Regions from separate parts of the Homo sapiens genome. Here region 1 is reported to be linked to region 2. The links are microRNA targets in miRTarBase. Many come from high-throughput screens and were not tested one by one. Region 2 holds a microRNA gene; the other region holds the end of a gene's coding sequence.

What was found. Region 2 holds the annotated microRNA hsa-miR-6752-3p (UCCCUGCCCCCAUACUCCCAG, at 784-804, opposite strand). A microRNA usually pairs through its seed, bases 2 to 8, with sites in the 3' UTR of a target mRNA and lowers its output. Matches are read on the target gene's strand: a 7mer-m8 pairs with bases 2 to 8, a 7mer-A1 pairs with bases 2 to 7 and ends in A, and an 8mer does both.
Region 1: the mRNA of PAIP2B is a reported target of hsa-miR-6752-3p. The part of its 3' UTR that is shown has no 7-base or 8-base seed match.

The regions. Positions count from the first base shown.
Region 1 is chr2:71,185,411-71,188,926 of GRCh38, forward strand. It overlaps PAIP2B (poly(A) binding protein interacting protein 2B), which reads right to left. Exons shown (of 4, transcript NM_020459.1): 4 at 1-3,125. The coding sequence ends at 3,069. Among named protein-coding and RNA genes, the nearest start is that of PAIP2B, 40 kb to the right of the region's middle.
Region 2 is chr11:67,488,099-67,491,098 of GRCh38, reverse strand. MIR6752 (microRNA 6752) reads right to left here and starts at 854; the gene lies at 784-854. AIP (AHR interacting HSP90 co-chaperone) reads right to left here. Exons shown (of 6, transcript NM_003977.4): 3 at 1,644-1,832; 4 at 885-1,061; 5 at 642-783; 6 at 1-311. The coding sequence ends at 106.

The sequences.
Region 1 (3,516 bases), not on the chromosome of region 2:
AAAAATAATTAGCTGGCCGTGGTGGTGCGTACCTGTTGTCCCAGCTACTCGGGAGGCTAAGATGGGAGGATTGCTTGAGCCTAGGAATTTGATGCTGCAGTGAGCTATGGTCATACCACTGCACTCCAGCCTGGGTGACAGAGTGAGACTATGTCTCAAAAAAAAAGAAAAAAAAAAAAAAAAGAGGGACCCCAGCTGCTGTGACTTTGGAAACTAAAGGTGTTAACAAAGGTCAAGCCTTTCCTTAGGATCGTTTCTGGTTTCACCCTTATGTGATTCCCAAAACTCAACTATTATTGTCAGAAACTGGCCCAAAGACCCAGGGCTGCATTTGCCCAGGCCTAGGCTGTATCCTTGAATTTTCTGCTGCAGTTCAAAGGCCTGGAGAAACTGAAAATGCATTCATTTGGGTTTTTTCCCTTGAAAAGAAAGAGATAAATTATTTTCATCTTGGAATTTTAGAGTTGAATAAATAATCCCAATAATTACAGATCAATCACTAATAAACTAACATTGGGACCAGCCAGATTGGCAACTGTTAGAAATACATGTTCCATTTCTATACAAATTCTCAAACTTCTAGTTGCCAATTTAAAAAAGTTTAAACAAAGTAGTGGCTTAAATTCAACATCAAAATTACCCCTTATAAATACAAGTCTTACCATTAAAGGGTAAAGGTGTCCAGTCTGGCTTGCTGGTTCTTCTTCTGTGAGAAAAGTCACTGACAGCCAGAGGCTCCCAGCCTTTCCCCAGTGAAGGTCCAACAAGACACACATGCATTTTCTGCTAAGAAGGTAGCAAACTCTAACTAGCCTGTGTTGTGAGTGACAATTGTGCCCCTACCTCCCAACATAAATAGATGGCAAAAAGAGTTGGACTACAAGAGGAACCGCCGGAAGCAGAGTCCTATGCATTTAAAAAAGAATCAATTTGCTAGCTGCTTCCTATACCTGGAGTCAGTATGTTCAGTGTCTGAAGAAGACTAGAAATGCCAGCCCTCAGTGTCCATGCTAAACTGGCAGGAAGTTTTCATAGTCCTGAAGACTGACATCCAAAACAGACCAGCACAGCAGAAGGAAAGACAAGCTCCTTTCTCTCTGCAATCCCAACGCATTTCTAACAGCCTTCGGAATTCTGAGCTTGGACAGGCTCACGAGGATGAAGGAGGAAAAGCAGTCCCAGAAGGGAGAGATTTCCTCTATGCACTTGCAATGCCCTTTCCCTTTTAGAGGAAACAACCCAGCTGAAAGCTGAAGCTTGAATAAAGAAGTTTCTTTATTCATAGTCCTCTCTGAAAAAGAGTTAACAGTTTCATTCTCTCAACATAGAGGCTTTGGGAATTAATGTGTCTGTCTGGTAATGCAAGTTCTCTAAGCTACTCTCCTATGACATGTGACCTAACAAGGAAGGCAATTTTTTCAAATGATATAATCCTAAAGACTCAAATAGGAAAAAATGTGTATTTTAAATCTGGCATTAGCTTATCACTGTTCAAAAAGTCAACGAGAGCTCATAAGGAGAATTTCTTCAGCTTTCCATACCCTAGTCCTTTCCTTCCAACCTCTGTCCCACAGCCACATACTGAATTTATACCAACTTTGTTTCAAGTTACATATCTTTTCCCTATTAGGCCTATCACACAGCACAGTAGCAATCAGAAAGAAGCCACTATTATCTTCAGGGCTCTCCAATTCCTCATCCCTGGGAGAATGGCCTGGATGGCTCTCCTGTACCCCACACTGCCATCTACATCTCTATACACGAAGGTAGCTCCTGGCACCCAGTTTAGTTCCTTAGGGGTAGCAACAAAAGACCCCAGCAAGTTAAAGGCAGGAAAGACAAAGAAACACACCCTAAGAGGTCAATCTACAAAACTTGCAAAGCTGGGTATGTGGGAACAGTAAAATGTTTTAATAGCTGAAAAGATCCCAGAAGGTCAGGTACACAGTCACATGGGTCAAGCAGGACTCACTTTCCTAGGCTGATTTTGAGTTCCTTTCCATAATTCTGTAATGTGGGAAGAAATATCCAAACTGTGAACTGAGCTTCTTACTAGTGTCCTGAAAAATATTTCCTTAAAAAAGTGCATAAACTTGTCTGAGGGAATTAAGACACCAGGAAGACCAAGTGTTGATGAGGCTGGAAAAAAAAACTGTCCAAATAAAATTAAGACACAACAGATTCAAGGATGACTTCTGCAGGCTCATGCTAATTGCCAGCACAGCAGGCCTCCCCTATGCCTTTGGTAGCAGTATCTTTTCTTAAAAAGGAGGCTGGGGAATAGACTTCATGAAAGATGAGGTGGCAGATCAACCCTAGTGCTCTTCTACTTATAAATGGTGAGTCTGATGGTGGTGGTGAACACAGGCTTATGAACAGGACAACAGTAACTAAATGACTCAAGTGACAACCACCATCACAGCCCTACCTTCTGATTTACAACTTTCAACAATCATCAAAAGTTACTGTAAACTAAGTACTTTAAGTCTGTGTTTTCTTGAATGGGGTTCAGGACAAACAGGCAAGGGCTTGACAGCACATTGGTTATCCGAGTTCATTGCAGGAGACCCCGGGGGTGGGGCAGCTGAGCCTCAAATTCCAGTTTGCACCACCTGCTCTTTCTGCTTGTCCCTTTTCCCATCCAACTCAATAGATTCCACAAAAAGCTCTCCAGGTGCTCACTGTCCCTGATAAGTATACAGCAGGGTGAGAGGGGCATTTCCTAAATATCCAGTTTTTCTTAGTCAGCTTATTTTGTTTAAATACACACCGCGGAACACTTCTGATGAAGGGGGGAAAATGCAATTTCCTTAACTCGAAAGAGCTATTTAAAAAAACAAAACAGGAAACTCCCCAAACAAAAGTCAGCAGAACAAAATAGAAATACTCAGAGGCTTAGAATAAGACTGAGCATATTAGTTACTCAGAGTCACAGTATTGTGAGACCACCACTCCCCTTCCCGCTGTGCACCCCTCGCCCGCCCCATCCCCCTCTTCAGCTCCACCATTTTGTGCATTACTATCCCCAGATGTGGGGACAGACAAGTCTTCCTCAAAGCTTTCTCGGCTCAGTACTTCTCTCCTGGAATAAACTCCTTGGCATCTGGGTTCAGGTTACTTTTGCTCTGAAATAAGAACCAAGAGATAGTAAATCCTAAGGCAAGCTGCATTTTAAAACTTACCCAGTCCATCATTATCAGTACCTTCCCCTTAGCTTTAGGGAGAGAAAGAAAATTCCTTGTAACTCAGGCTGTTATTGCTAGGTTATCTCAACTGCACCTGACATAGCCCTGAGCAAGCTCATCTTCTCCTTCCTTCTTTGGACTCTTGTTTCCTTCCTGATGCTTTCCAAAATCTCATCAGAGGCCTGTAAGTTCAACTCCAAGAATAATTTTTCAATTCACTGAGTACCTTAACTTGGTGAAAACCAGGGTACTCCATCAGACCAGGCTGGATACCACAATCTCTATTTTTCTTCATCTTTCTGTACTCTCTTTGGTTCTCTACTCTCTTGTG
Region 2 (3,000 bases):
ATAAATAAAGGCCTTTATATACACAGAAGCATGACGCAGCACGGGCAGGGGGGCTGGCAGCTGCAGCAGTGGGCTTGGCAGGTAAGGCAGGGCCAAGTGCTCCTGTCAATGGGAGAAGATCCCCCGGAACCGGGCTTTGTCCTCTTCGTCCTTCTGCCGGATCCGTGCCTCCAGGGCCCGCAGCTCTCGGCTCACCACAGGCGCCAGGGCTGGGTCCAGCTCCAGCACTTTGGCAAAGTCAGCCTGGGCCTCCTGGGCATTCCACACGGCCGCGTGGGCCTTGCCCCGCTTGAAGTAGGCCTTGACGTTGTCTGCAGGGGAGGCCAGTGGGCAGTGGGCATGCAAGGGCATGAGGGGGGATCCTGGCCAGCTGCCTGCCCTCATGTCTCCTGGCACCATGGGCCCACAGGGGAGAGAGAGCCCTCCCTGACCTGAGGATGCCACCCCACCCCCAATACACCATTCATGCTTCATTGGCACAATGGGGCCCACAGCCCTGCCGAGTAGAGGCATTTAGTCAGGCCCCCGTGGGAGCTCAGAATGGGGGTTGTGAAAGGCTAGGTCTTGACCCCAGCAGTGACAGGAGAAAGGCCACTCTCTGACCACTCGCAGCCCCCGGCAGCCCAGGGCCCGGTGCTCACCGTCGTACTTGTTGAGGATGGAAGAGCAGTGGTCCAGCACCTCGTAGTACTCCTCGACCACCAGCTTGCACTGGCAGTAGTTGAGCAGCAGCGGCGTGATCTGCTGGTCCAGCTGGATCCATTCAGGGGACCCAGGCTGTTCCTGGGAGTATGGGGGCAGGGAGCGGGGAGAAGCTGTAGACCTGGGCCCCCTGGCTCCACACCCCCCTCCATCCATCCTCCCCCTCAGCCTCCAGGCAGTACCTTCATCTGCAGGTTCTTGAGGCAGGCAATGGCATCGTAGTACTTGGCAGCAGCCTCCTTCACATGCCCCTCGCGGTACAACCGGTTGCCCTCCTGGTGGATAAGTGGCACTGCCTTTGCCTTCTCTTCGTCTGTCATGGCCCATGGGTCCTGCTGGTACGTGCCAGGGCTCTCCACCTGCAGGGCATGGGGCATATCACAGCGGGGCTCGGGGACACCACAGCTGCGTCCGTCAGCAGCAGACCTGACCCACATCTGGGCTGGCTGGGCCCCCAGACATCACACACCAGCAGCAGAGCTACTTGTCACTCAAAAAGCATCAAACATCGATGTCACATCTCCTGTGTGCCCAGCACTGTGCCAAGTGCTAAGAATAGAACAGTGAACAAGACGGTGAAAAGCCCTGCCCTCGCAGAGATCATGCTGCATGGCAGGTTCCCTAAATGGACAAGGAAATCCATGAATTCCAAGGGACTTCAAGGTGCGGCAGAGGCTATAAAGGAAATGAGCTGCTGCGAGACAGAGAATGAGGAGACCGGGTGGGCAGGGCCGGTTTCCTGGAGGAGGTGACATTTGAGATGTGAAGGAGGAGGAAAGGAGACCCAGGGTACTGCCAAGGGTCCTGCACAGGTTTTCTTGTCTCTGTCCGCTCCCCCAGCAGTCCACCTGCGGATCCCACCACCCCTGGGTGGACAGGCCAGCGCCGCCCTGAGGCTGGGCAGTGGGGGCCTGGTGAGACCAGGCGCGGTGGCCCCTCACCTTCAGCATCTCCATGTGGAAGATGAGGGGCTGGGGGTTCTGCTGCAGGGCGTCCAGGTCAGCATGGCCCAGGGAGCTGTGTTCACGCATCTGTGCAACACCGCAGCAGTGCCGCTGGCCCTCCAGGGGGTCCTTGCCCACCGCGATGTTGCGGAGACTCTTGGCCACCAGCGGGTACAGGACCACATGCTGCGGGAAGGCAAGGGCGCCGGGGGCTCTGTCACCGTGGGCTGGCTGGTCACCGGGTCCACAAGGCCCAGCCCCCTTCCCCACCACCATCTGAGAACAAACACCAAGGCCCAGAGAGTGACAACTGGGACCCTACTCCGTTTAAGCACAGGAGGCTTTTAATTCAGGACTCCTCCAGTCGCTCAGCCCTCTCTCCTGGTGAAGCCCCAGCTTCTGCCACATTCTCTGGCCACCAAACAGAGCACCTAACCCCCTCCTCACCCCCACCACAGACACATGCCTACCATCAACCCCTGTCTCCCTGGTCCTTACAGGCCCAGTAGAATTCTTACCTCCTCTCCCTCCAGAGGATAAGGCCCTTTGCTGGACTATGCAAAGAACTGGGGCCCCCCACATTCTGTTCCCAGCAGCTCCTCCTTCTGCCCCACCCACACCCCACTGAGGGCCTACCTCAGAGCTGGGCCCAGGCCAGCCACTTCAAAACCCTCAGGGAGGCCGGATGTGGTGGCTCACGCCTGTAATCCTAGCACTTCGGGAGGCCAAGGCGGGCGGATCACCTGAGGTCAGGAGTTCAAGACCAGCCTGACCAACATGGTGAAACCGCGTCTCTGCTAAAATACAAAAATGAGCCGGGCACGATGGCAGGTGCCTGTAATCCCAGCTACTCAGGCAGCTAAGGCAGAGAATCAGCTGAACCCAGGAGATGGTGGTTGCAGTGAGCCAAGATCACGCCACTGCACTCCAGCCTGGGCAACAGAGTGAGACTTAGTCAAAAAAAAAAAAACCCCACAGGGAGACAGGCATAGGGGACCTAGCCTCTAATCTCTTGCTTGGCAAAGCTGCTAGGCTGGTGGGAACCAGATAACCAGATTCCTCCTACCCGGGTCCTCCCCACTCCTCCCACTGCCCTGTTGTCTGGACAGGGGCTGACTGCCGGGCTGCCATCAGCGGGCATTTCCTGAGTCTTGGCTCTGGACTGGCTCGCGCTGGGCATCCCAAAGCTAGAAGTAAACAGGCCAGATCCCTGCTCTGCAATAGCCTAGGACAAGGCAGAAGAGCAGATCCTGGCCATGCAGGGCATGAGGGTTGGAGGACCCAAACATGGGAGTTGAGCCAACCACTAGCAGTCAGGGAGGGCTTCCTAGAGGTGGTGACCCAGGAATAAGCT